Linked DNA regions of Homo sapiens: regions 2 and 3 are each linked to region 1. Evidence: fine-mapped expression QTL. A gene starts in region 1. Each other region holds a variant in brackets. All regions are shown on one strand. Distances are from middle to middle.

Region 1 (10,896 bases):
GTGAGTAGCACATGGCAGATGGCAATAAATCTTCATCGAACTGAACAGAATTAGTTTGCAAGTACATTTCACCTTTGCTACTAGATTATAAGTTCTTTAAGAGTGAGGCCCATGTCTTTCTCTAGTAAAGATTTATTAAATGAGTGATGGAAAAATACCAAACCAAGAATCGGGTTTCTAAGATCCAGCTCCGTCATTCAAGACCTGTGCAACCTCAACAAAGTCACTTAACACTTCTGCGCCTTACTGGTCCCACCTCGAAGATGACAAGTTTGAACCACATGTTTGCCATGGTCCCTTACACTCTAAAACTGTATTTGGGCCTTAGCTGCAACATGGCACTTCTGCCACCGTGCATGTGACGTCAACACACCTCCTGGCTTGGCAGGCCAGTTTGCTAATTTGCCTCCCTGATTTGCAGTTTTCCAGCAGGAGGCTATGAATAGCTTTGGGTGCTTAAAACACCCATTTTTGGTCAAAACACTTGGCTTGCTAGGTGAGGATGCCCCATCACCCAAGCTAATGCTCTAGTGGCCAGGGGCACCAGGGCAGACTGTGGGGGAGGGGCACACATTGCCCACCAGTCCTGCCACTCCCATCCCAGACTCCCCCCCAGGGACCCTGCCTCCAGCTCACACCACACCACCTACTGCTCACTAGAGATAACCTGGTACAGTGAGGAAGTTGAACTTGGCCCCTTGACATCGAGGTGATCACAGGACATAAAATTGTGTGGCTTTGGTTTTGGGATTTTTGGCAACGCTTTGTGTGGCCTGTAGGTCCAGGGAGCTTAGCTCAAAGAAAATGCATGCCGAATTATGACACAGAGGCTCACCCAGTAGGCCTGCCCAAAACTGTATCAAAACCAAAGTTGTGCAATAAACAAGGCCCAAATTCAAGACTTGAGAAATGTGTTCAGATCCTATCTGAATCTGGCTAATTATCTCATCTTCCTATGGACACACCTCCCTAATTAATTTGGTATTTATTTTATTACTCTGAAAAGTTGATTATTTCTTCTATCTCTCTCTGCATGATACAATGCATTGTCTCTCTGATGGTCTTAAAATCTAATGAAATCCTAAAATGAGATGAGAAAAAAAATCTGCTAAAAGGAGGAACTAAATTGATTAATGTCCCCTTTTGAGGTTTTATATAGATCACTGTATTCAGTTCTCACAAGTCTATGAAGTTGGTACTCTTAGTAGCTCATTTTACCGATGAAGAAGCTGAGGTTTCAAAAAGTCACATAGCTTGCCAAAAGACACAAAGCTAGTAGGGGATAGATCAAGGATTTGAATGTAAGCCAGGGCTCTTTGCCTTTCTGCAAGAGTGCCTCATTTTTGAGCTTGTTCATCTCTGGAACAAGCCACTCTGAGTCCTGGTCTCACGGACATGCTTTAGCAGAGGCTGCAAGACTGCAGGAGAGTGCCTGGACGACACACAGGGTCGCACCAGCTGACTCCAAGCATCTCATTCTGCACTTCTCTTCAGAACTGCCTTTCGCGGCACATAGAAAATGATGCTGTGTTGTGTTTTGTTTTATTCAGAAGGTCCTTCCAGGTATGCAATTAAAAACCATCACATCCTCATTTTTTAGAAACTTCTCTCCTCTCTGAGAAGAACCCCTGCTTTCAACAGGGATGTTGATTTCACAGCATTTCATACAACCCCATACTCGGCACCTGTCTTGGGCCACTCACATTAGTAAAACACGTTAGAACCACTGCTCCTCTTGAGAGATGCTGTAAAAGGCACTGGTGCAAATGAAAATAAAACATCACTTCAAAATTCTACCCAAAGATCAAAAGGCTAAATTAAGATAGTGCCCTTTCAGTTCTCCTCAACTGCACCTTCAAAGCATGTTGTGAATGTTTAGCACATCGCTGGTACCAGAAGAAAACTCCAAGTTCATATTTTAGATGAAAATGTCTTACTGCTCTTAACAGGTTCTGAGTCACCAGGCACTGTATGGGCAAGAACAACTCGTTGACCAATTTTTTGTTTGTTTGGTGTTATTTTCTGTTCAGCCAGTCACAGGAAATTTTCCACTTGACAATTCCTGTTTCTCACTAAAGTTCTTAACACCATCTGTGAGCAGTGTGCTCAGCAGGGGGAGGACGGGGGGCCAAGGAGGACTTTCCTTCCCCAAACCTCAGTTTTCCCATCTGTTTTATGCAAGGTTTTTACCCAGGGATCTGGCTAACATTCTGTAAGCTCAGCTATCAAGGAGAAAGCAGCCCCATGAATAAACGAAGCATTTTAGAGACTGTCAGTTTCTGGGCGTGGGTCTGCTGCCAGATTTAAAATCTTTACATAATTTTGGGGTAAAACAAGAGATTTAGCTGAAATTAATAGCACAATGGGAAAATGAACTAGGGCTGAACAATAACACAGCGGGACTTCAGATTTGCGGCTGGTAAAGAAGCCTCTCTCGTTCTCAGGGCGCCCCCTCGTGGCCGCTTGACTAAATCCTGACGGAATGTTCAGTTTCTGCAAATACAGAGAAAGACATCCCCCAAAAGAGAAAGGCGGACTCCTGCCTACTGATGCAAATCCCTTTCACTCTAACCTAGTCTGTGGATCAGACAGCTCAAGAACGCCTGACAGGAAGTCCCACTGACGCTCAGAAAGGCGTCTGCCATAAGACAAGGGTTCGTTCGTTAGAAAGGTCTGAGGTAGTGCCCCAGCATTTAGACTTTGGGGTCCCTTCACAGACCCTAGACACACCCTTACCACTTCAACAACCCCTCATAGCCTCACATTCTCAACCTGCAGCTCGAACTGCGTCTGTTTTTCATTATTCTGCTTCCCACCTTCCCAGTGCGATTCTTCAGCAGCTATTAAGACAACATGAGCAGGGATCTAAGCTTAGTTTTTGCTTATTCAACATCCAGCCTGGGGAATATCACCTCAGAAGAAAAGCATGAATGAAGTGCACGTTTCCCAGCCTCTTCTTCCACAAACCTGAAATTGCCTTCATCAGAGGCCACCCTTACAACCCTCCCCTTTAACAATTTCATCCTACGAAAATGGCACCTGCCCAGAGTGAATTCTCAACTACTTGCTTGCTGTAGAATTTATTACAGAGCCAGCTTTAAAAAGAAATGTACGCCATCTCAAATTTCCAATTAATTGATAACAGATTTTTTTTTAAAATAACGTTATGGGACGAAGTTATATAGACCCAAACATCAAATCTGAGAAATGGGTTGGGAGGGCGTTATCCGGGTATCCAGATATTTGAGAATTTGGGGACTGAACTTTGCTGACTGGCACCCCCATGTTTTTTTCACAGAACTGTTCCTGCCGAAATGCAAAAGAAACATGTCAATACTAAGCTGCTATTTTATTTGACAGCTCATTTTCCTTTTTCCCTGCAGTCATTTGTTGTTTATAAGCAAACCTGAGCCTCCAAAACACCCCCAAAAGTGCACACAAGGAGTCCCATAATCAGTTTCTGACTTTGGCCCTAAATCGATTAGAATACATCTGATCTGCTTCAAATCAAAGAACCATGTTAATTTTCTGCCACACACCACACAAAATCTTTCTGCAACAGTCAGTCACTTTGAACCCAACTCTCTAGCCACAAGCAGTGTGGATTTCAAGGGCCTGTTCTGCAGAAGTGAAAATAACAACAAACCAAGGCTGGGACAAGGCAGACAGACCCCAAGGCACTCAAAGCACTCCTTGGAGCTGTGCAAATGGTGCCAGGACCCTGGCAGGGTGTCAGCTGTCACAAGAGCAGCGGGGCCAGACCCCTTCAGCGGTTTGGTAGCCCTGCAACCAGGAGCTGAAACACAACTGAGCCTGCTGCAACTAAGCACAGCTATCTCTGTAGCTACCCATGCCCTGGACATTTCGGTCCTCCCAAAGCCATGATGCAAACTGTTAGAATCCTCAGGCTTGCAGTAGTCTTTATTTTTGCTCCCTAACCTTGTCTCAAAAACAGGCAAGAGTCGCCCTCCCTTGCAGTCACAGCAGTATCAGGGCGATGCAGAGTCTGAGTGGGAGGATGCAGAGCAAGGAGCTGCGGGCAGATGGGTGGAAGGGGGTAGGGACACCTACAAAACACCGGACTTGAGGGGCTAGCTCCTAGCTGGGAATGTGGTTCTTTGGAGAGTTGTGGAAATAAGACGTTTCGGGGCATGGTCTAAATGAGTGCCTGCGAGGGAGAGAGACCCCGGCCGTCCCAACGCTGCAAAGTGTTTGCAAATCTAAAACATTCCTTTGCTGCTAGGATTAAATTTTTAAAAACAAACCAAAAAATAAAATAAAATATGTGCAGACAGGATGTAACAAGTGTTTCAGGACAGAGACACGCCTGAGTCACGGGGTGCTGGAGAAAGAGTGAGGAGTCTGTCTCGGGGCTTCCCAATGAGCCCCCTCTCTGTCAAGAGAGCCCCAGGGCGCACAGACCCCCGCCTCGCACGCCCTCAGTCCCCGGCCGCGTCCACCCAGCGCCCCCCGCACCCTCCAGGATTGCCCCACTCACCACTCGGCCAGAAAACCTCTCGGTGGCCCGCTTGACTTTGCCGTAGGTGCCTTTGCCCAGGGTCTCCTGCAGCTCGTAGCGGTGCTTCAAGTTGTGCTTGTGGTGATGCCGCTTCACCCCGTGCGGCTTCCTGGGCTCCAGGGCTGCAGTCGCCCCCGCCACCGCCTCTCGGGGAGAGCCCGGCGCCCCCAGCCCCAAGTCGGGGCGGTCCCCCGCCACAGGCGCGGCGGCCCCTTCCATGTCCAAGCGCGGGGCGAGCCGGGCTACAGAGGGCAAGACCGGGCACAGCGCTGGGATGTCGGGGTCCCCACCGAGGGAAGCCGCTGTACGCTCAAGGTCGCCCCCGCAGCATCAGGGAGGCGGCCCGATACCGCTCGGACTGCGGCTCGGTCACTGGCGGCGGCGGGGACTGCACATCTGGCGCCCGCGGCGCGCACGGTCCGCGCACCGCCCCCCGGCCGCGGCGAGCTGTGGAGCGTCGGGCGAGGTGGCGGCGGTGGCAGGGGAGGCGGTGGTGTTTGCAGGAGGGAGGGGAGAGGGTGGCTCGCAGCGCAGGAGGGGGAGTGTTATGTGGGGCGCCGCGCCCCCCAACCCCTCCCCGGGAGGACGCGCAGACGGGGCGGGGGCGGCGCTCGCGCGGCCCCAGGGGAGGGGGAGCGAGGGGCGGTGCAGCCAGGGCTTCCCCCACCTCCCTGCAGCCACCCGGGGCCGGGGCCGCCGTGAGCTGGGAGGGGGATGGGAGCGTGTCGCGACTCGCCCTTTGTGCGGCGCGGCGTAGGCCACGGCGGCGGCGGCGGCGGCGGCCAGGAGTGCTTTGTCCTCGCTGGGCCGGAAGGGACCGGGAAATTCCAAGCCGGGCGCCCCCTCCCCGGGCGCTCTCGGGCTCGCCAGTCGCAGCTACCGCGGGCCCTCCGCCGCCTCGGGCTCCGGGGCCGGTCGCTCGGCCTGGATTCCTGCTGGCGCCGGGGCGGCGGTTGCGGCTGGCCGAGCCCCGGGGCCGGGGAAGAAAGAGCGCCGCGAGCCGGGGGCCGCCGGGACCTGCTCGCGATACGGCCGGGGCCGCCGCGGGCCTGGGCGCCCCTTCATTTTCTTGTAGGTGTCGCCGCAGCCTGGCGGCCGGAGCTGGGGGAGGGGGCAGGGAGGCCTGGTGTTCGGTTACAGGCGGTGACTCACGGACCTTGCCCGCCCGAGGCTGGCACCCCGCGGGGCAGAGCTGCGCCCGCCTGGGGCAACTCCGAGTCCAGGAGAACCCCAAGAGCGGCGCTTTGGCCCCGGCCCCCGCGCCCTCTCCGAAGAAAGGAGAGTCAGGGACGGAGGGAGGCCGGGAGGCTGAACCCCGGGCCCGCCGTCGAACCGCCGGCCCTCCGACACCATCTGGACCCCGGCGGGGACAGCCGCCTGGAAGGGGAGGAAGGCCAGGGACGTGGAAGAGATGGGGCTCTAAAGGCGCCGGGACGGAGCTGGCTCCCCAGAGGCGCCCACCCTGCCAGCGAAGGCCGCCATCGGAGGTGGGCAAACCAGGGACCTGGGGTGGACCAGGACCCCGGGCCTGCTGAGCAACCCGTTTGCTGAGCAGGAGGCGATTTGCAGGCCTCTTGCCTCCTTAGGCCTTGGGAGATTTCCTTTCACTGAAAGGGCCAGATCCTGGCGATGGTGACAGGAACGGTACCCCGCACGGTAAGGGTCAGGCAGGAAGGGCCTCCCACCGCGGCGTGGCTGCCGCCGTTCTAAGAAGAGACCATGAAAAATAAGGAAGAAGGCTAGAGAAAAAGAGGTCTTAGGGAAATTTTTTTTTTTAACAAGTGGTGCAATGTACCAGACTAGGGTGGGAAGAGTGAAGGCTGAAGAAGGTCTGGTGTTCTGCAGATCGCATGGCGGTTCTTTTCCACCAGTGGACCTCACTGGGGCCTCCTCTGCAGCTCTCAGGTGCAGCCCTTCCTCTACATTCCCGCCGCCTTCATTCCTGTCTACCCCTGGTCACCTTACCCCGGACTCCAGCAACAGCCCGCTCTCCCCAACCCTCCCCGGGAGCCTCCTCACTGCTGCCAGAGTAATGGCCTGAAACACTGCCCTCATCCTCCACACGTGTCTCTGCTGTACTCTGACGCGTGATATTCTTACCTGTCCAAACTTTCCTTCTACTGATATTTCACACAAACTTCCCTGCCCCTTCTTCCCTTCCCCAGGAGCAATGACAGAACACAGACACAAAGGCGCATCATGCCTATTCAATTCCTATTCTGTCCACCGCATTTGCAGGGCCTCCCTGCCACCCACCCCCATCCTGAAACTGTTCTGCTTCTATACAGTTTGTGGACGTTGTGCCTATAGATCCCACAGTCAGGATGAGTGGCATGCAGGTTGAGTCCTGGCTTCCCAGAGGATTGGCTGTGTGGCCTTGGTCAAATGACATAACCTCTCAGAGCTTCGGTTTTCTCTTAAGATATGGATTTAGCAGATCTATTGTAGAGATAAACACATTGTGTCTACAGTAGTATTTTAAAATATTTTCTACTTCTTCCCCTCCCCTGCGATGTGGTAGAAATCCACTACCCCATCCTCTTGAAGTTAGATGAGACCATCGGACTTGCTTAGGCCAATGGAATGAGAGCAGAAGTGATTGTGTTGCTTTCACTTGGAACCTTTAGGAGCCAGTGAGCAAATCCCCATGTCTTCTTTTTCCTATCTTGACAATCATGGTGGTACAAAGTTGGAGCCTCCCCAAGCCAGCCTGAGTCTCTGTGTAAAGATGGCAGAAAATCCCAGCCAATCTGCATTGGAAAAGTAGTGTCAGCAAATATTAAACTTTATTTATGTTAAGTCAGTGGGATTTGTTAAAGCAGCATAACCTGGCTTATTCTGGCTGATAGTGTTACTCCCAGATATGTGGGACTTCATCAGTATCTATTGAATCAACAGCATCATCTACCATAGGCTGGTACTGTTTTATGACAGTAAACCCTCCTCTGTAAAGTAGCTGTTTACAATCCCTATTTTCAATTGAAGAAACCGTATCAGAAAGGTTAAGTAATTTCCCAGAGGTTACACAGTTTGTAAATGGCAGGACCAGGATTTAAACCCTACCTGTCCAGTTCCAAAGCTCCCCCTTCTCCTTTCATATATGCCATGCTCCGTCTCCTTAAATGGGAAGGATGAAAAACACCCAGTACAATGCCTAGCACACAGTCATGCCCAGGCACTGGGAGTTCCTCTCCAGACTGAATTCCTACCACGTTTATAATTGGAACCACACTTCAGCACAATGCTATCAGGCATTGTGTGTGAATGTTTTCACATCGATAAAGCATTTTCTCCAACAAGAGCCCAGGCTCCTTGATTAAGAGCTTCAGATCTAGAGGCAGAGTGACTAGGTTCAAATCCCTGTTCCACCTCTTATGATCATCTTGGATAATTGTTTTCCCCCTCTATGCCTCAGTTCTCTAATCTGCAAAGTGGCGATGGTAACTTTCATGTGCGTCTGTGTGAAGAGACCACCAAACAGGCTTTGTGTGAGCAATAAAGCTTTTAATCACCTGGGTGCAGGCGGGCTGAGTCCAAAAAGAGAGTCAGCAAAGGGAGATAGGGGTGGGGCCGTTTTATAAGATTTGGGTAGGTAAAGGAAAATTACAGTCAAAGAAAGGGGGGTTGTTCTCTGGCGGGCAGGGGTGGGGGTCGTGAGGTGCTCAGTGGGGGAGCTTTTTGAGCCAGGATGAGCCAGGAAGAGCCAGGAAAAGGACTTTCACAAGGTAATGTCATCACTTAAGGCAAGGGCCGGCCATTTTCACTTCTTTTGTGGTGGAATGTCATCAGTTAAGGCAGGGCAGGGCATTTTCACTTCTTTTCTGATTCTTCAGTTACTTCAGGCCATCTGGGCGTATACGTGCAAGTCACAGGGGATGCGATGGCTTGGCTTGGGCACAGAGGCCTGACAGTAACAATGTATGTGGTATTAGCAATTACGCCAATAACACATCCCACAGGGTTGGTATGAGGATTAAGGGCTAGACTATATCCACTCAATAAATCGTGGATATTAATACGATACTTTTCATCTTCCATAGCTCCTACTAGAATTTGGAGCCTTTTTTTTTTTGCGATGGAATTTCACTCTTGTCACCCAGGCTGGAGTGCAATGGCACGATCTTGGCTCACTGCAACCTCCGCCTCCCTAGTTCAAGCAATTCCCCTGCCTCAGCCTCCCAAGTACCTGGAATTACAGGCATGTGCCACCACGCCCAGCTAATTTTTTTGTATTTTCAATAGAGACGAGGTTTCACCATGTCGGTCAGGCTGGTCTCAAACTCCTGACCACAGGTGACCCACCTGCCTAGGCCTCCCAAAGTGCTGGGATTACAGGAATGAGCCACCGTGCCTGGCCTGGGGCAATTTTAAGCAGTTTAATCATACTGCTTGGTTAGACTCTGATTTCTGGTTTTGTTCTTGGATACAGGACAGATGTAGTAACATTGGCACTTGAAAGTGTGACATCCACACTATCCTACATCTTTTATTTACATAAGGCTCATTACTGGTCCTTCACTGCACTTTCTATTTTCAAAGCAATTTAAAAGAAAGAAGGTATGTTCGCTTTCTCAAGAAATCGTTGTTCAGGAATCCTGTCATTCAGGCAGCATAGATGAGCTTGGAGGACATTATGTTGAGTGAAATAAGCCAGGCACAGCAAGACAAATACCACATGTTCTCACTCATATGTGGAAGCTAAAAAAGTTAATCTCATTGAAGTAGAGAGTAGAATTGTGGTTACTAGAGGTTGGGGGAGGGGACAGGGATAGCCAAAGGTTGGTTAGCGAGCACAAAATTACAACTAGATAAGACAAATAAGTGCTCATCTTTGATAGCACTGCAGGGTGACTATAATTAATAATTTAATTGGGAGGATACAATAAATTAGTAATTTATATTGTGTATTTAAGAACATACAGTAGAATATTATATTGTATATATTCATTATTGATTGTATATATTTATTTATTGTATGTTTATAATTTATTGTATATAAATTATATACAATATATTGTCTATATTAATAATTTATTTTATATATTCAGATAGCTAGAAGAGCAGATTTTGAATGTTCCCAACACAACAAAATGATATATGTTTGCTATGTGAATAACCCTGATTTGATCATTACACGTTGTATGCATGTATCGAAATATCACACTGTGCCCCATAAATATGTACAATGATGTGTCAGTTAAAAATAAAAGAAAAAAAAGAAACATTTGTTCAGAAAACATAGTAGTAGCAGTCATTATTTATTTACTACCTACTACATTATTTATTTACTACCTAGGACCCCTACATATGCATATCGCCCTGCTAATCATCGTAAAACTGCAAGGTGGGTGTTATGTTGCCCATTTTGCTACTGAGAAATCTGAGTCTCAAAGAGGCTAAGTTGCCTGTGATCAAACAGTAACTGCAGTCAGGATTTGAACGCGAGCCTCCGACTCTAAGGCTTTGCTCCAACCCCTATCCCGAGCTCATGTCAATTAATGCCTGTGCTTTGGCTGATAACTGTTCTTACACTTTGCTAGATGAAGTTTTGAAAAGTTACCTAAGACTGTGATGTTTCTAACTTAAACATGTGGTCTGGTGGACAATTTACTTTAAATAGCAAGCTAAATAAGTGCTTAGTCTTCACTGTAGTGGAAGGAAGATAATTGCAACCAAAAATTCATGCTGCTTCATCCATAGAGCTGACAGACGGCTGCTCAGCCAGGGACAATGCCCAGCCTCCCATACATCGAAGTGTGGCCATGAGACTAGGTCTCTCTAATGGAACATGAGCAAAAGTGATGTTTTTTGCTTCCAATCCAGGGTGTTTAAAAAGTGGGTGTGCCTTCTCCGCATTGCCTAGCTGGAAACAGAGGACTTGGAGGCCCTAAGTGGATGGTGAAGCCATAAGATAAAAGAAACTTGGGCCACTACTTCACCTTAAGAAATAAAGTCATTCTCTGACCAGGACATTGGACTGGTGCATCAGTGAATAATAAACTTAACTGTATTGTGTTAAGCCCGTGCAATTTGAGGGTTTATGTCATGACAGCTAGTACTACCCTAACTAATACATACGGTTTACACCAAATCTGTATGTACACAGAAAAAGCAAAATGGAAGATTATAACAAGTACCTGAATAGTTGAAACCCAAAATGACATTTTTATTTTCTCTCTGTTTATTCAAGGAGATACCAGATTATTTAGGGTCTTGAGTTTTTCTTTTATTTTTCCTGCATTGCTTGTGTCAGAGATTAAATACGAGTAGTATTCAACAGTCATAAAACAGGAAGAAACAAATTTATTCATTCCACAGTATTTTCCCATACATGTCAGGCACCTGGGGCTGAGAATGTGCTGGGGCAAGACAGGTCT
Region 2 (8,436 bases), 27 kb before region 1:
CTTTACTTGACTCTACACTGGTAGGGATCTTATTCACTGCTTTATTTAACTTCCAGTCCTTAACACCATGCTTGGCATACGGTAGACCCGGGAAAACATTTAGTGTAGGCAGGTAGGCAGGTAGATAAAAAACGAAGGAAAGATGAAGGGAAGGAGGAAAGGAGGGAAGCTAGAGGGAGGGGAGGGTTGCTGTTATTAATTGATGCAAGCTCAGACCAGAGAGGTGGTAGCAGAACTGGGGAAAAAAAAAGGGGGAACCACCCCAGTTAAATAATACTGCCACGACAAGCATAATAGTAAGAAGATTAAGAATTCCTTTAACATCTATCTACACAGGCAATAGAGGAATAGCTAAACAAATATAAAACACAGGGGGCCCTGCTGTAAACCCAGGGGCAGGCTCCACCTCCCTTCGACCCTGGGTGGACCCATGGCTGGATAGAAGGAGGCTGCATGGAGATGAATGAGCCTTCCAGCTTAAAGGCCCCTTTTCAGCAGAGAGCCAGACTCAGAGCTACCCCAAGTCCTCACCACAGCCCCATTCAGTATAGGGCAAGAAAAACTTCCCTTCACTTACGTCAAATGTAAAGATATGACTGGATGGCTTTATTTTATCTGAGGAAGGGCTGTAATCCTGGGACCTTGTTCTGGGAGGAAGCAGACAGTGAACACACACAGGCTGTGGAGGGTGTGGGTGGCTGCTGGAACAACTCCTACATTCCTCCATAAACTAAAGATGGCCGAGGGTAGAAACCACCCCTTTGATTATGCAGCAAGCTGAACTTGGCCTCAAGGAGGCTCTATTGTCAAGTTACAATAGGCATAAATTCTTCACCATGCAGGGTCAGAGGAGGGTAGCAACATTCTAAAGGGTAAAAAAATAGGCCCACTTGCTGATTCCCCCTAACAGTCCAGCGAGGCGGAGGGTCCCATGGTGCAATCGCCAGGGGATGCTTTCAGCTGGGTGTGAAAAGGAAAGTGCCCACATTCTCATCAAGCCTTGCTCAGCACTGAGGAAACTAAAAGGGCTCCATAAATGTTAATAAGCATAGTGGCTGTCTCTCCACAAAAATTTTCCCTTTTCCTACAATGATTTTTCCACTGAAAATGTAAAAGAGGGTGCATTCTGCTCCCCTGTTTCAAAGGGGTGACAGGAAGTCAGGAGGAGACAAATGCTAGAAATCACTCTCATCTGTGCACCTGCCAAGGCTGGAGGGAAGACATTCAGCTCTACTCCCAGAGTGGTGGCGGACCCATCCAAGGTTCAGACAGCCGGTTAATGACAAAACAAAAAAGCACTACTACTACTAATAGTAATGGCCAGTATTCATTAGCCACTTAATATATGGAGCAGACACCGTGCTGAATGCTTTACATGCCAGGGATCTTTGCACCCTTCTCATTTAAGCCTCAGCTTCACACCACCCTCTCAGGGAGATCCTTCCTGATCCCTCTAGCTGATAAGGCCACACTTATGGCCACCTCCCTCTCTCTATACCCTTCCCATTTTATCTTCTCTGGAGCATTTCACACCAACTACTTTATTAGCCACATATTCAGCCTGTTTTTGTAGGACCCAGGGAGCTAAGAATGATTGTCATATTGTTTAAGGGTTGTTAAGGAAAAAAAAAAAAAAAAAAAGAAAATCTCTAACGCAGCTCCTGCAAAAGTATCTGCTTCAGGAAGTTGAAGGATACACTGAGCCAGTGCACAGACAGTATTGCATAATGCTTAGGAACATGGCTTTAAGTCCAGGCTAAAATCACCCTCTAGCTGTGTGACCCTGGGCAGGTTACATAACCTCTCTGTGCACCAGTTTTCTCATTCATCTAGTAGAGAAATAATAGTACCTGCCTCATAGGTCCTGGTAAGGATTACACATCAGGTGCTCAAGAATACACCTGGGCCAGGGGGTAACTGCTAAATAAGTGTCAGTCTTTTTTAACCCAGAGTGAGTGTTCTGTAAGTAGAACCTTCCCTTCTTCCTTTCTTTTTCAGAGCAAACTTGAATTCCTCCTGGCTCCTCAAGAGACAGTGAGTGGAGGTCTTAGGGACATGTTTTCATAGTACATAAAGGACAAGAGCATCTCCATCCTGGGTCTTTACATTGCAACCTCATCTGAAATCAGGAAGATCAGATCAGCTGGTTACACACCATTATCAGCAGGGCTCCTGAGTCCAAACCAGACAGGAGGATGAACATCTTGAACCCAAAAAGCAATCCCAGGAGCATTTCTCCACCCGCTCCCACACTGTCTCCTTTCACCATTCAGCTGAACAGGGCACAAATATGTTCCTACTTAAAATCAAAACTCAGCCTCAAGATATTCACACTTCAGCCTTTATGAAATTTGACTGTTCATCCACTTGTTCTTTTTGAAAACCTACCAAGTACCGGCTACACAAAAGGGAGCCAGCGCGACTGCTCCAGCCCTCAAGGTGGGAGGTGGGGTGGGGAGGGTACGGGCAATAAGCAAAACTCACACCAGTAATTACATAATTACCCTCATGGCCAGGGCTACCAAAGAAATGCACAGACATGCCCGGCATTGCGGAGGAAACCTCCTCTCCAGTTTTCCTCAATTCTCACATCTACAAAGAAACACAGAGGTAAGGAAGGGGCCCAGCAGGAAGAGATTACCAAATGTCTGAAATCACACACCCTCCACCCCTAAAAATCCCATTTGTTCCTGTACAAGTCAGAGAGCCTGAGAGGAGGAGGGAACTCAGGTGTTTGAGCCCGACTCACAGTACAGCCACATTCATAAATGTTCCCAAGTCTAGACAGTACCATGTGCCTTATAAAATGGTCTGCTTTTAAATAAGGCCACCTTATGGTTTAATGTTTAAACCTTCTGCAGCAGCAGGTTTGGTGGAGAACCTGTGAATCCCGCCCTGCAGTGCCTGCCTGTTTCAGAGGCAAACTCAGCCCAGCCAATTCTGTTACATGCAACAGGCACAGCCTCCTCTTGAGGGTTGGAGGTTTTTCCTTTTTTGAATAATCACCAAAAACCACCTGCTCTGTGGCCTGCTGGGCATCCTCTCCCACATTGGCTGCTGTGGGTGTTCAGAGCTTGGTGACCTAGGAAGGGCTGGGGGATGCAGAGTAGAAGAGTAAATGCTCAGACTGTCACCGGCTGGGTGACCTCAGGCAAGCCCAAACTTCCCAGGTCTCGGTTTCCTCACCTGTAAAATGGGGTTACAAAATCCTGTTTCTTGGGGTTGTTGTGAGGAGTGGAAACTAGGTAAGTAAAGGCCCCAGCACACAGTATTCACTGAATGGCAGTGATTATAAACCACACTTAAGAGGTAATGAGCCCACAGCAAATCATATCATAGGTCTCTTGGCTCCTCTCCACCCCCACACATATCCTCCCCTCCCCACATTTGCACAGTGGCAAAAGCAGGTTAAAATTAATATCCGGCCAGCCCCAGGGTGTCCTGGTGTCTTATGGAGAGGACGCCTGTGTAGTGTAGGACCAGCCTTGGGGGCGTGGCAGAGAGTCTGGGCAGGTTGTATGTCGTCGAGGCTCTAACCAAGAGAATCCCTGCCCTCCTCCTTTTGCAACCATCTCCCTGCATGCTCATTCATTGATATAAGCTGGACTTCAAGGAGTATTCTTGAAGTGCCTCTCAAATAGGAGTCACCCATGCATCTTGAAAAAGTGCAGATTCTGAATCCATAGGTCTGGGTATCCAGCCTGGGATTCTGCATTTCCAGCAAGGTCCCAGGTGATGCCAGCCCCAGGGACCACACTTGGAGTAGCCAGGTCTTAGTGCTTCGTCTTTGACCCTCAACATTTTTAAATCAGTGGCAATATTCTTAATAATAGCAATAATTAATATTTCTTAGGTGTTAATCATGTGCCAGTGGACCTTATCTCATTTAAGCCTACCTACAATCCTATTTTACAGATGAGAACATTGAGGCCAGGAAAGATAAATATTTCCCAAAGTTACATAGCCTGTAAAAAAAAAAAAAAAAAAAGTGGAGCTAGAATTCGAGCCCAGAGGCTGCTGATTTTTAAGGCTATGAATAAAGTTGGGATGAATAGAAAACATCACAGGGAACAGAATCTCCTGTAGGATCCGAAAGGGTCCCTAAAGCCTAGTGAGATGGACCCCCCTCCAAGCAGATGAAGTTTTACAGGGTCATATGTGAGGTCCCAAAAGGAGGGACTGGAGGGCTGAGCAGCAGGGAAGAAACACAGTCATAAATATGGCATTAGCATCACTTAGTGAGAACAAGTTTGCATCCTAATCCCAGCAACACGAGCTGGCAACTTCCCTGCCATTCACAAGGTGTGATCTCATACCCAGGCACGTTCCACGGGAGCTGCAGGGCACGAAGTCAGAGGCAGCTCAGGGGATCTCTCCTTACCTAGGAGCCCAGAGGCCGCCTGCAGCAGGAGCAGGCAGCCAAGCCCGGCTGGAGGCTGTAAAGTGCTCCTGCTCTTGCCTGGGAGATGCACAGAGTGTGGGGCAAGGCACAGCCCCACCGAGGCCACACCGGTCCAAAGCTCCCAGGATCACCATGTGGCTTTCACTCAAAAAGCCTCTGGCCGAGGACAGTCACCACGGTGATGCCACCCATCTTGCAAACAAAGCCCCTAATTAATTAAATGACCCCGGGCTCTTTATGGAGGGGCCTGGCCAACTCAGAACAACACCCCAGCAAGTTGCTGTGATGCAACGGGCCCCATGGGAACCAAGCCAGCTCTGCCTGGGGGCCCATGGGCCTCTTCTTCCCTTCCTCTTTAGCCTGTTGGTTCATGTCCTACATGAATGTATTTCAGAAAGAAATGGATTGGAAGCCAAGAGTTGTATCAACAGGCTCTGAGGCGAGGCACTGAAGCCAGGGAGCATGGTATGTGTAGCTAGGAGCTTTTCCTTCAAAGAGTGGCATCCCCTCACTGGCCCTCATCAGCCCTTTAATGTTGTAAGAGGTTCTGAAAATTTAATCCTCTGTAACTTGGTTCTCAAACCTCTATTTCTCAAAATTCTACATAAAAGAGATGATGATTCCTGTGATGATATTGATTTCTCTCCTGCCATAAAAAATGCATTCTATTTTCAGAACATAAAAAACAAAGCAGATTCGTGCTTGACTGGGCCTGGGCCAGCTCAGGAGGACCTCAGGGCTGGGACATTTTTATCTACAGGGACAGTCATTCCTTGGTCTCTAAGACTCACCCCCACCCCTCTCCCCTTCAAAGACTGAGCTAAGAATGTCATTGCAAGTGGTGATGCCACAAGGGAAGTGGAATTAATGACTAAGAAACCGTGGGCAGATTCACACTCCCTGTTGAGGTTTGTAAACATAAGATACAAACCGTGGCTGACCAGGCAAGAACCAAAGAAATAGCAAAAAGGCCACCGGAAAGTTCGTGCTGAGTGGGCATGCCAAAAGTGAGCCACAAACCCGCCTGAAAAGGACAGTCAGAGACTCTAGAGCACTATCTGTCCAAGGGTGGTGAGCAGATCACCTGCCTCCGATCCCCTGGTTAGGGGGAAAGGGGAAACTGATTGCTAAAATGCAGATTCCTGGGCCCACCCCAGAGCTAGTGAATGAAGGTGGCAGTGTTCAGGGTAGGGGGCAGACCTGG[T/C]ATCAGCATTCTTTACAGCCTCCCAGGTGATTCTGCTGCACTCTGAGGTTTGAGAGCAGTCACCTTAAAGCAGGGTAAATGTGGCCCTGACGACACCTATTGTTCTGTAGCTTAAACAGGAAGCAGTTATATTACATACTAGATGACTGATGAAAATTAATGAACCTTCCATTTATACACAGAGGAATTAAACACAGGCTTCCTTGAGGGGGCTCAGTGACTTGAATTAATTTACCCCTGGTAAATGGAAAGTTTGCTTCCAATGGGTATCTCCCTAGTCCCAGCCCAAGGAGGGCCTGTGGATGAAGTGATGCCAGGGAATGTGGGTGTGGATGGGTTACTTCACAGTCTACACATAACCCGGAGCACGAAAAAGCCTCTGGTAACACAAGAGACGCTAACACAGACAATATCAGATTCAAAGAAAGACTGAAAATGCCAGGCCATTTAGCTGAGACTGGAGTTGCCAAGCAGCTGTTTATTTTTGGACGTTCACGTCTCTGAAGCCAAATGCAACACCAAATCAGAATTCTAAAGTGCAACTGTTTTTCTTCCAGGTTACAATTGCCCTGGGAAGGGAGAGAAAGGGCTGGGCCAGAGGGCTGAGGTTGCTTACAACTTGGACAGCCTCAACTGGTAGCATCTGATCACTCTGACACTGTTTATAACAAGGCTTGGATAAGCTTAAGGTTGTGCAACTTTTATTTATCAACCTCCAAACCCAGAAGAACCCGAGCCAGTACTGCTAAGAAATCCAGCATCTGCACCTTGGGCTTGTCATCAGTCACAGCAACCCAGCCAAGGCGACTCCTATAAGGAGAGGGACTCGGATAATCACGCCACCGGCTCAGTTTCCTCACCTGCAAATGAGGATGATGATGGTACCAACCTCACAAGGTTGCTGTGGCAACATGGCAGATTGTGTATATGATGGAAGGCAGAGAAGGCAAATAGTACCTACGGCAGAAGCCAAAATGAGGACTGTTATCATGAGTAGATGTTAGAGCTGTAAGGACTTAGAATGCTCTATGCCAATCTCCTCATGTTACAGATGGGGAAACTGAGTCCCAGGGAGGTTAAAGTACATACAGGCCCCAAGTTCACGAAGTTATCAGCAGCACTGGAATTGCAACAAGAGAGTCCTGATTCCCACTCCAGGAGGGATAAACACTCTGAGCAAGGGGTCCTTCCTAATCAAATACTAAGCCACAGTGAGCAGCAGGGCTGAAACTGCCACAAAAAAAATTCAACATTTACATGGGAGGCTGGCTCCAGTCACAGCCAAGTCCCCAGAACTGTTGCATCATTAATAAACCGAGATGGGAGTGGCAGATACTCTTCAGGGTGCTGACAAATCATGACTTGTGCTGCAGCTTGGTGTATTTCACCTCCATCTAATGTCTGTCCTCACATAGCTATGCCAGAGACGCTGTTTTCAGTTCAGTTCTATCCAAACTTTCCTCCAATTTCTGAAGACTGATTTAATATCACCCATGAATACGCATACTTGGGAAGTTTTCATCCTATTATTTCTTAATTCATTGCAAACACTGCTATTAAATGATAACTTCAGGCCACTACTGAATCACTAACCTTGGGGACAATGAGCTAGGAACACAAAAACCTAAGAAGCAAAATTAGTTTTCCAAAGGGAAAGGAAATTAGTCAGTTGAGTTTAGCTGATCCAGGTGAGCAGAACCAAAAAAACTTTTCTTCATTTCTTAATATGGTAAAATACAACAAGCTAAAAAGAGGCATGACTTTCTATCTTATTTTATATTCTAATCATGAATGGTTTTATAAATAAGTGAAAGAGAAGATTCTGCAGAAGTTATTTTTATCCAGACAGAATCTCTTCTGTTTAGAAAACTGATTTATAGCAATGTACAAGACCTATCAGATAGGGCGGGAGCAACCGTGCAGGCTGCAGTCCGTCCCCCAAAGCCTCTGGAGAGCACTCAGGAGCCCCCGAGGCCTCTCTCATTATCTCCTCACAAGCATCTTTTTCCTTCCAAGAGAAGCTCTCATTGTCCATTATTCCTAGAGTTAAAAGGCTGGTCCCTCCTCCCCAGCCCGTTGCAAGATCCATCGGGAGGCTTGTCATCTCCCTCATTAGTGCTCCACAAGCCTGCCTGCTGGGATGCTCTTGCTCATTGCAAATGCACAGCCCCAAGAAACCGCAGGCTGAGCTGAGGAGTGTGCTCGGCCCCAGACGAGCATTTCCTGCCGTCCCATCATGGGGATGAGCCTCGCCCAGTACTCAACTCTCAGTTCCTACCCTCAAGGAGGCTGGGGCAGGGGTCTGTGGTCATCTTGGAGACCCTAGTTGTGCCCTGGGTTGGGGAGTGTGCTCATGCCCCTAGACATGGCACCTGCCATTTTCTCTGCCAGGATCCTCCACATCCTGTCCTCGCCATTAACATTTTCGGTTGACCAACTCCTCTGCATCCATCTGCTGCAGACATGGCCCATCCCCTGCAATGACCCCTTTGCAGATATGGGTCCCCTTTTATAACCTCGCTCACCATTGCTCATAAGCTTCATTTGCACGAAAATCATTTCTGTTTTATGCACCACGGCATCTCCAGTACTAAGCATGTGCCTAATGTACAGTATATACAAAAAAGCTGTTGCTAAAATGGAGCCCAAGTATTAAGAAGGACCCTTGACAAACAGAAAACCATAGTGGGACATCTGATCATTCCAGCCAACCTAAACCCCAGCCATCTGCCGCTGAGCCTTCTTTTACTTGCTCACCTTTCAAACGTGGAATCCCTTCTTGTCCCAAAATCACTGAGCCTGAACTTCCTCATCTTCCAAATGGAGACAA
Region 3 (10,896 bases), 71 kb before region 1:
CCTAAAACACTACTATTCTGTGCACAGCATCACTCTCTAATGTTTGATACTAGGGTAGGGTTTGATGTCACCTGATATTATGGCCAGGATCCAGGAACTCTTCAATCTTGCTCTATGATGCACCTCTCCTTCCAAGAGCTTTCTGGAGGGTCTATTTACACAAGAAACAGTGGCAAAATGGGACTCAAGATACTGTCATTCTAGGCAGAGCCGTGAGTGGCCTTCCCCATTAGGAAATCGTGACCCACTGATCTTGGACTCTGATTAATCCCAATCAGATTAGCAACTTCCTGCCCTTGGGATAGAGGGGAGTGCCTAGGGAAAGGGCAGGCACAGGAAACTGAAATGTGGAGAAAGAGCGTGGCTGAGTGTTAGCCTTTGATGACGTCTCCAGTTCAGAACTAAGGAACCTGGTGAGTAGTCTCTTTTGGAAACCAAGACTGAGAACATGTAAATTTGGAAGCTACGGGATAAGCCAAGGTGGGTTCCACAATCAGAGAGAAGAAAGCCAGGCTATAAAAGGAGAAGAAAGCTGATATGCAAAGAGAAGCAGAAAAGAGGGTATACTGTCCTCTTCAATCCACCACTCCAATTCTTAATTCCAGCGGCACTGCAAGATGCATTTCCTCTTCTAAGAACTTCGAATAAATTCCCTTTTGTGCTTAAGCTCATTTGGGTAGGTCTCTGTTACTTATATTGATTCTGTCACTTACTTGACTAAGAAAAAACCACCAAATAAAGAAGCAAGGTCTCTGGTTCAGTTCATTGCAATTTATTTAATTTAAAAATAAAAACAGAAACAAAAACCAAAATGAAACAAAAATCAGTTTCCAACGAAAATACAAACACTTTGGGTGGTTATCCAGCTTGTTTTTCCCCTGTAGGCTGTTCTGGGCTCAAACCAATCAAATGAGTGAAAACCAATTTTGACAGGAGCCATAAAGCATGTTGCACCAATTAAATTACACCAATATATTATTATAATACCTTTGAAATGCCTTTCAGACCAATAAATAAAAAAGACAAATTCAAATAAAAAAGTCAACTTTTTATTACCAAAAAAAATAGAAATTAAATAAAAGTCACAATGTGGATTTTTTTTTTTTTTTAATGTGCAGTCAAGTTTCTCTCTTTTTTTCTTCTAGGAATGATACCATGCCAGTAAATCCCTACAGAACATTTCCAGTTTGGCAACAAGCAGTCAGTCGATCATTCACATTTGTACTCAAGACAGCAGGCCTGGGCAAAACTCGCCTGAATTTCACCCTGAAAAGTGCTCCCCATCATCTGAAGAAGCAGCACCTGGTAACAGGCATGGCCATTCAGAGGGTACTTAGCATTTTCATTTCACCTGGGGTCTTGAAGCACTTCCTGAAAACTGATTGTGCCTTGACATTTACCTGTAAAAAGAAGTGTAATTCTACCCCTTTGGCAGATGTGTAAACTAAGACGGTGCAAGGCCCACAGAAGTAAGGAGAGGACCAGGAAAGCTGACAGTGAATCTCCTGCTTTGTCCATCAGGTCCTAAAAGTGTCTCTCACTTGTAATTCCACAGAAGTGAATAAAGCATAACTTCTTTGACTGGGATTGGCTGGTAGGGATGACAGGACTTAATGATGAAGCAGGGAGCTGCTTTAATGGCTTTTCCCTCTATTGCAAGTTTTTCCTTGAAAGGACAGTCAACACCACACCTAGAATCAGAGGATGTTGGCAGAGTGTCAGAGCTAAGCGGGGCTTCAGGTACCAGCTAATTCATCCCTCCAGCCCTCACTGGAAGGAAAACTTAACCCCTGCAAACAATGCAGATGCCTAAGGCCACCTATGACTTAACTCAGTCTCTGCCTCTGAGTGGAGGACTTTCTCTGCCACAGTCCACTGGCTGAGTTTCCTGACAAAAGAGAACACGTGTTTGGGGGGAGGAAGAAGGGAGTAGACTGACTTTCCTCAATAGTGTCATTTTTACTTAAAGACTAGAATGATGGAAACTACTAAACAGACTCAATCACTTGGCAAAAGGAAAAAACACATCAACCAGTAGGTAGGAGCTAGATCTAAGTCATACTGACAGCTACGGACACGGCCAGCTGCCGTGCACAAGGGGCCAGCAGGGCAGCAGCATAGGCTGTTCAGAAAAGACTGCATGAAATGAGGCAGGAAGTAGGGAGCTCAGAGTTGCAGGTTGTCCTCCATGCACCCACACCCCCACCCCCCCCCACACACACAATTTGCTATCTACAGAATTTTTTTTTTCCCTTTTAACCTCTATTAGAGTTCAGGAAGGAGGTGGAATTGAATGAAAGGAAATTGAGCAGCTTCCCATAACACACTGCTCAGCTCAACCTGAAGGAACGCATAAGCCAAAACACCAGAGCCGGTGGCAAGGGGAGAGCCCAAACTGTCTCCTTAAGGAAAGGGCAATTCCATTCTAATGCACTTTCTTAGCACTGTAAGGTGAATTTTTTTCTCATCTCCCTAGAACTATTGTTTGTTGGTTTTTCCAAAGATGTTCCCAAGACCAGTCCTCTTTTCTATCTACACGTCTACCAGTGGTGGCCATCTTGAACTGAGTTCAATTTGCCTTGGCCAGCAGAATCTGAAGTCATCCCAGAGACCAGGAAGTACAAACCTAGTATCATGAAGGTGTCCCATGGTTGGAGTGGCATCTTGTCATTGTGATCTGGGTGTTTAGAAATTACATATCTAGTTTTTTGTTTTGTTTTGTTTTGTTTTGTTTACTTTTTAAGATAAGAGTCCTGCCGCACCTCTTTTCTGTCTCCCCCAGAACCATCTGGGTAACATCTAAGGAAATGTTCCCTCTCTTACATGCTTCCTCCCAACCCCCTGCACTCTTTCAACACCTTATTCATTTAAATGAATGGAACTTTCTCTTCCCCCAAAGCCCAGGAGTTCATGGCAAAGTTTAAAACCATGACATAGAATACTTAGATTTGGGGGAAAAAAAGCACCATCTACCTGATTTTCCTTTCCTCATCCCAATATCCCATCTACATGCTAACTCCCTAGAAGCAAACTTGCCTACCTCTGAGGATGCTACACTCAGTGGATGGGGAAACCATCTGTCACTGGTGAACAGAGCCAATGGTTCAGCCAGGTAATCCTCTGGAGAATATGGACAGTATCACGTCCAACTCAAAGCATCCATGCAGGTGAGAACCCAAGAGGCAGCATTCCAGTTAATATTGAGAAAGAAAGTGACAAGTTGCCTCTTGTTGGTGTGCATCAACTTCCATTCATCTGTGCAAAGATCACAGACCATCTTGTGCCCTGTCATATATAATAGTTTTGACCTCTGACACCATCATCTTTCTCCCTGTCCACCCTCAAGAGGTTGTGCTGTAGAGCAAGGCAGACATCAGGAAAGAGGAGGTGAACAGCAAGGAGCTAAATCACCATGGGCTGACTCTATGTCCTTAGCAGAGTTCAGAGCATTCTCTCTCTGACCAAGGCCCTGTCTTTCCTCAAAGTTGAGTAGCAAATTAACAAATGCCTCACCAGTGGCATGAAAGAGTTAACATAGATCCCACAGGATGACTAAACCCGATTCCCAGGGCCTAGCCAGATCAAAGATGACAACTACATAGCATTAGTGCTACTGCTTCCCCTTCCCTTTCCCGTGGTAGCCATTACTAGTCAATCACAGCACTCCTTCCCCATGATGTGGGCCACTTACGCCAGCACAACTGGCAGCCACTATTAATTGATCGTCAACTCAAGCTCAAGTTGCTGAAATCTACTTGCCAGCTCCACGCAGCCAGACCTAGCTTGCTAATACAAGGAGAAAAGGGGCAAGTTCTTTGGGCTCACCCAAGGCAAACAGCCCAAGTGTCTCCTGCCCCTCCTCCAGAAGCATCTGGATGACTTCTAAGGAAATGCTCCTTCCACATATGCTTCCTCTCCACCCACTGAGTGCCGGTCAATACCACCTCCCCTGGACAGCTGGTCCTCTAGGAGGTGCCATAAAGCAAATGCCAAACAGGGCCCAAATTCTGACTGACAATTGACAGAACTGGCAGAAGAGCCCACCTCTCCCTTTTAGGTGTTGGCTCAAGGCTGCAAACTTGGCCAAGTGAGACAGTGCCAATCCTTTTTCAGTCTGTTGTCACAGCCAGCAAAGAGGTAACCAGCCTGTGAGCCCAAGTCTTGCTCCCCTTCCTCCCTCGTACCCCCGCCCGCCCCTGGGCGCCCTGGAATGCTAGTTGAGCTTGCTGCAGATCTCCAGCGCTTGCTTGTAGACCTGAGTCACATCATCCATGTCTGTGAGGAGGGAGAAGCTGCTGTCTGCCAGCCGGTTCCGGTACCGCTTCAGGTACTGGGGCCGGGGCCGGTTCTGGAGCCCCTCAAAGTCCTGGATCTGGAGGAAGTTTTCTGCAGAGACGCAGCTGCGGATGCGCTGGCGGGCAGGGCGATTCTCCTGCAAATCCAGCAAGTCAAAAGAGTCGCTGGACAGCACGCTGTCATCGCTGATGACACTGGAAGGGCGGCTGTAGCTCCGGGAGAGGCCCTCGGCAGGGACACCAGGCTCTGACAGGGATTCCAGTGTGGGCATTTCAGGGCTGACCAGGGCTGGGTCCATGGTGCCCGCTGAGTATTTGCTGCTGTGTTTCAAGATGCCCTTCCTCCGGCAGGAGAGGCTGTGGGAGGTTACCCTGGCTGGGTCCGGGGGGCTGGGGGAGGGGATGCTGCTGCCCATCACATCATTACTGTCCAACAGCTCCGAAGACTCACTGCGCTCTGGGGAAGAGTAGTAACCTGATTCTCTCTGCTGGGTCTTTTTCAAGATGCCTTTCTTGGGCATCGTGGCCGACTGCTTGGGGCTGAGTTTTCCCGGCACCTCTGCCTCTGGTGAGCTTGGGAGGAGCACGCCAGTCCTGCACAAGTCCTGCTCCATCTTGAAAGTAGAGGGTAAGGCAGGACCAACTACACCTTCAATGAAGCCAGTGCTGTGAGAGCGATGCTCGCTGTTGCTTCGCTTCTTCAGGATCCCCTTGGGCCTCTTAGAACTCAACTTGGATGGGCTTTCAGGCACTGCATCCTGACCAGACTGAGCAAAGTCATTCTCTTTCTTGGATTTCTTCAGCGACCGCTGCCGCTCTAGCATGACCTCAGAGGTCGTGGGTTTGGCCAGGCCCTTCATTTTGGCTTCGGTGTCAGCCTGCAGCCCTGTGGAACGGTGGTGCCAGTCAATGATCCGAGCCAGGAGTGGGGACTCAGAGTCATGGAGGGCATCACAGTCACACACGCTGCTCTTATAGCCCCAGTTCACCCACCAGTGGTTGGCAATGTCCTCAATAGTGGCCCGGCGATCGGGGTTCACCATCAGCATCCACCGTATGAGTCCTCGAGCATCTAAGGGACAAGGGACAAAAAGAATCGGGCATTATGTGGGAGCTTCTGGCTTTGTGATAGTGGGACCCTCCAGGAGTGACGAAAGACACACACTCCCTCTAGGACAAATCCATCTGGAGACCT[G/C]GTCCAGCCACATTATGGAGCAGGAAGCCCCAGCCTTTCAGATCATCCATCAAAAGCATAATCAAGACTTGGAACCACAGGCCAGGGTGCCATCACATCATGGCATGTTTTCCCTGTAAGTGAGAAAATGTCATAGAACTACTAAGCTTTTCATCATCTTGAATCTTTAGAAAATGTGGAAGGTCAGGTAACCAAGAAAGAATCCAGACTTGACCCTGAGAGGTGCCCCACCATTCCTTTGGCGAATATCATTTTACCAGAGGAAAAACAGGTGTAGATAACCATGGCTTTCTTTATTCCTCCAAAGGTGGGCTTGTATAAACACACAGCACCTGCAGTCACTGGGAAAGCATGCCAGAGACAGAACATGGAGTGTGGCTCAGAGGCACTTACCTGGAACACCTGGGCAGTAAGCGTGGCCATCTCCAAAGCTGGCCTCGCCCCAAGGTCCAGGCCAGGTTCTGAGACCAACACTCAGTGAGCTTGCCTTCTTTCCCTCTCTGACATAAGCCATCTTCTACTGAGCTATCAGATCAGAGAAGTGATCTATATCTGCTTCCCATTCACAGCCTGTCTGGAAATTCTACCTGCAAATTTCTGCTGCCAGAGAATTAGGGAAAACCCCTAAAGGGATGCTGAGAAGGCCACAGGAACCAACTGACTCTCACAGCTTATAAACTGACTTTTAGGTTCAAACTGTGTTCCCCCAATTGGGGTGAATTATATTCTTGGAAGCTGCCACCTCCCCTCAGCTGCTTATGTAAGCGAATGAGAAGCTGGCAAAGGCCTGGTAATAGGGACTGGGGCAAGAAACACCCCTGAAAAGTACCAAGATGATCATCCTCAGTCATTCAATAAGTATTTCTTGAACGCCTACAATGTGCCAGGAACCGCATTGGCATCAGTTAGCTGGTGAGGCAAAGAAGACCACTTTAGAGGTCACTCTGAATTTTTCCAAAAAGAACAGGCTGGCTTGTTGAAAAAATTATATATAGAGAGAGAGATAATGCATATCTATATATACACATACAACCGTCTAGCCTGATTATCCATAGAGTCTGTATTTGCAAATTTGCCTACTTGCTAAAATTTATTGGTAACCTCAAAATCAATATTCGCAGCTCTTTTGCAGTCATTTTTGCATATGCACAGAGCAGCAAAAAGTTTGAGTCACCCCAACACACATATGTATTCACAGCGGAGGTCAAACAAGGCAACACTCTGCCTTCTTATTTCAGTTCTCATACTATTATACAAATTGTCCTTTTCTCAGTCTATTTAGTGCTGTATTTCTCACATTTTTTGGAATTTTTATTGGTGATTCCTCTTTTTAAATGCCTCCCTAAAACAGTGCTGAAGCACTGTTCAGTGTTCCTAAGCTCAAGAAGGCTGTGATGTGCCTTATGGAGAAGATAAGTGTCTTAGATCAGTTTTGTTTAGGCATGAGTTACAGTGCTGTTGGCTGTTGAGTTTGATGTTAATGAATTAATAATATAGATTAAATAAGGTGTCTTTAAACAGAGACACACATAAAACAAGGTTATATATCAATCAGTTAACAAAAATATTGTGAGCAGAGGCTCTCAGGAACCTAACCCTCTATTTCCCCTAAGAGCAATGGTTCAATATTCACAAATTCAGTGTTTGTAGCAACTTTGTAGAACATAACTACTATGAATGAGAATCAACTGTGTATGTGTAGGTATACAGATATACATATATATATATGCGTGTGTATAGTATGTATATAAATGAAGTGCCAATGTTAACTTCATTTGTTAACAAAAATGACCAATGATGGCCAGCTGTACACACTCTCTATACAGGCATGATATTCCCCATCAAGAGATGAAGCTCATGACCGTGGTTGTCTTGACCAATAGAACACAGCAGATGTGACACAATCTGGGTACAAGCATGGACATGGCACTGGCACTCCAGCCTGGGCAACAGAGCGAGACACTCTCTCAAGAAAAATTTTAAAAAAAGAAAGAAAGCTCGGCAACTTTTTATTCCTCCTTCTTAGAACCCCAAGCTGCCACTGTGGGGTGGCACCTCAGAGAGCACTGAGGAAGGTCCACCATTCAGCCCCAGCAGCAGCCCCAACTGCCATCTGCTTACAACTGTAGGAGAGGAAGGCCATAAGAGCACTTCCCAACCCACAGGGGTGAAAGAGATGATTTCATGGTTGTGTAAGCCACTGAGTTTGTTTTGTAGGGGCAGATGGGGTAGAGTTGTTACACAGAAATCAATAATGAGACAGAACCCATGAGCCATGCCCCATGCCAGTGGCACAGTAGTGAGAGACAGAGCAGTGGCCACCCTCACAGTATTTACATTCTCAGGTGAGTGGTTTCTATGTCTACTCAGACTGGGAGAGACCTCATCTAATATCTTTTCCAACGTTTTTATTTATGGTGGAGAATCTGAATCCAAAGAGATTAAGTGACTTGTCCAGATCCACAAAGCAAGCAAACAGGACTCCTAGAAGGTGTGCTCTGAAAATTTCCTTTGGGAAGGTTTGGGGAAAGCAGCCTAATAAGCCAGTTTTGCCAAGGATGACACTTCTGGGAAGAAGAAAGAGGAAAACCAGGTGACTCCAGACAGACATACTAAAACAAAAGCAGAAAATAAGAGTTGGGTAAGCAGATCTCTCTCCCCTCCACCTCTGACCCTCCCTCCACAGGGCACGCACCTGAGGGCTGTGTTGGCTCCCGGTACTCTCCGCTGCTGATTTGCCGAATGAGGTTTTTGTGATCGAAACCATCGAAGGGCATTGTTCCATAAACAAGAGTGTAAAGCAACACACCCAGGGCCCAGCTGTCCACCTGGAGCAGAGAGACAGCACATATAGGAGAGCTGGGAAACAGATCCCAAGATGCCTTCCAAACCATTAGCATCATAGCCTGTGAGCAGCCACCCCCAGCAGCCCCAGGAACTGAATTTAGCACCTGGAAGATAGGTTCCTAGTGCAGCCTGACACCTGACAGCAATGCAGCTGGGACCTGCTACAGAGCCTGACCTTTCCATTCTGAACAGAGGCCAGTGGTCCCAACTAGTAAAGAACTTTCTTAAACAGATTATCTTCTTTAATCCTCACTACAATTTTGTGAAGCAGTTAGAGCCAGGACTATTTTCAGCCCCATTTAAAAGATGAGAATACTGAGGCACGAAGAACCTAAATGGTTTCTCCAGAGGCCCTGCCCCAGTGACGGAGGTAAAACTGGGATGCGGGGCTCTTCATTCCTAATCCAGGAATCAATTCCTTCCTGCACTTTCTTCAAATGAATCAGGAATTACAAACTGAAATCTTAACAGATATACACAAAGCAAGAAAGAATTGGGGTTATGACATAGAGTGTTGGGGATGGAGACAAACTGTACAGTACATTCACCCGTCTTAGGCAGACAGCCTCTCCTTAGCTAATTGCTGCCATGTAGTAACATGGGCCCAGCACTGCTCGATTCTTTGGTTTTACAAGAGAAGTCAGAAACCAAACTTTTACATGAAATCTCCCAATTATTACATGTTTGTTCAATTTTTTTAATAAAAACTAAGGTGGCCAAATAAAGGAGTTTGCTGACCAGATCACAGACTGCTAGCCTGGAACCTCAAAAACAGGTCATCGAAGACCAAAATATTCATTATCTATGAGAAATTTCGTGTCGAGTTTCTACAAGTTTGTAAATTGAGTTCTATGCTCCTCCCTCACATTCTTATTTTAGAAAGACTTTCTCTTCATTGCAGTTAATAGATGGTCTTGGCATCCTTCTCTTTACCCTTCAGCCCTGCCCCCAAACACTCTCAAACACATAAATATTTGAAAGAAAACATTTCAACACACTGAGCAGCTGCTATTTAAAGGATACTGAGTGGATGAACTCTGAAAAGAGAACCATCTTTCAAAAAGAGAATCATCACTCACAACTCACTCATTTTCAAAATAAAATTTCCATATACCCATATCTTACAGTGGCCCTTGAAAGCGCTAGCATGTAGGGAAATGTATTTCTCATGAATTAGAAGATGTCATTAAAATGTATTTCCTTAGTCAGATATGCATGCTGCCAAAAATATATACAAAAAAGATATTTACCCCAGAGTGAGGCAATTTTTTGTTTGTTTGTTTTGTCTGTTTTGATATAATAGGGAAAAAACTAAATGTTCACATCTAGACATTACTAAATAAATTTTGGTATATTCATTGATAAAATGTCATTAAAATCATGTTTTTAATAATGAATTTGGAAATTGCCACAAGATAGTTTTCATAGTAAAGGGCAAGATATACATACGTGTGTCACATACATATGTATATCTTGCCTTTTATTAACTTGATCTCAATTATTTTTGAAATGCAGAGATCTACATTGGGAAAAGTTTAAAAGTCACTAGAGTTTTAAGTGATTATCTTTTCTAGGGGGATGGCAGGTACCTTTATTTTCTCCTTTAGGCTTTTCTGGGTTTCCCAAATTTCCTCCCAGGAGTATACATTAACTGCTTTTATAATCGTATAAGGAAACGTTTTCCTTGCTGGCTTTTTTAGGCTCTGTTTTTTTAAGCATTTCTCGAATCCAGTTTTTGCCCTTCCTCCCTCTTCTCCCTCCCCTCCCCTGCCCCATACACATTGGGAAAGCTGCTCACCTCTGGCCCTCGGTAAGGTCTCCCATTGACAATCTCAGGAGATGCATAGAGTGGACTCCCACAAAACGTTTGTAAGAACTTATCCTTCTGGTACAGGTTGGAAAGCCCAAAGTCAGCAATCTACAAAGAGAAGCAAGACCCAGGGAGACTTGTTAGCATTCCAGATTATGTCTGTGTTGGATCAGTTCACACCACACAGCACACAGAGTGGATGAAGGGCACCTGGGTGGGTCTGCTGGCTGGATCGCCATTTTCTCTCCAGCCCTGAGTCTTCATAAAGGACCACTCAGCCCAAGCAGGTCAGTGTTTCCTAGCTGCAGTCCTTGGCATCCATCACAAGTTCTACCAAATCTGCAGACTACAAGCTCTGCAACTTACTTAGAAATTACTCTTTAAATGGATGCTCTATTTAAACTTTAATTTAGACTTGCTTTGAGAAATAACATTCACAAAATCACTGGCTTGATGTTTCTGATGAACATTAAAGTGTGTAACTATTAATTTAAGAATTCTCCCTCTGTGGTCTACCCAATTATGCTGCATCTGCGGTGGTGTGCATATCACACTGCGGAAAAACCCTGACCTACACAACTGGTGATACCACCTCTGTATCCACTCACACCCTGATCAGAACTGTATTTTGCCTGTCTTGTGACTCAAGATGAAATGGACTAATTGACTCACAGCATTGGGTTTTGAGTCATCATATTTCAGTCCCAACTCTGCTCCTATCTGTCACTTAATGACCTTGAGCCTCAGTT

The links. PIP is the estimated chance that this variant, and not a neighbour inherited with it, causes the effect.
Region 2: its variant is fine-mapped to the expression of NUAK1 in whole blood (TOPMed, PIP above 0.99).
Region 3: its variant is fine-mapped to the expression of NUAK1 in blood mononuclear cells (TOPMed, PIP 0.90).

What each region holds. Positions count from the first base shown.
Region 1 is chr12:106,133,916-106,144,811 of GRCh38, forward strand. NUAK1 (NUAK family kinase 1) reads right to left here and starts at 5,039. Exons shown (of 7, transcript NM_014840.3): 1 at 4,499-5,039. The coding sequence starts at 4,738. RefSeq lists enhancers at 1-207, 208-1,050, 3,468-3,969, 6,361-6,980.
Region 2 is chr12:106,107,934-106,116,369 of GRCh38, forward strand. The region is part of intron 1 of NUAK1 (NUAK family kinase 1); the gene reads right to left. Among named protein-coding and RNA genes, the nearest start is that of NUAK1, 27 kb to the right of the region's middle. RefSeq lists enhancers at 1-433, 434-1,178, 7,259-7,835, 7,836-8,412. The variant T/C (reference allele first, on the strand shown) is at 5,607.
Region 3 is chr12:106,062,589-106,073,484 of GRCh38, forward strand. NUAK1 (NUAK family kinase 1) reads right to left here. Exons shown (of 7, transcript NM_014840.3): 5 at 10,136-10,255; 6 at 8,186-8,318; 7 at 757-5,367. The coding sequence ends at 4,214. Among named protein-coding and RNA genes, the nearest start is that of NUAK1, 71 kb to the right of the region's middle. The variant G/C (reference allele first, on the strand shown) is at 5,491.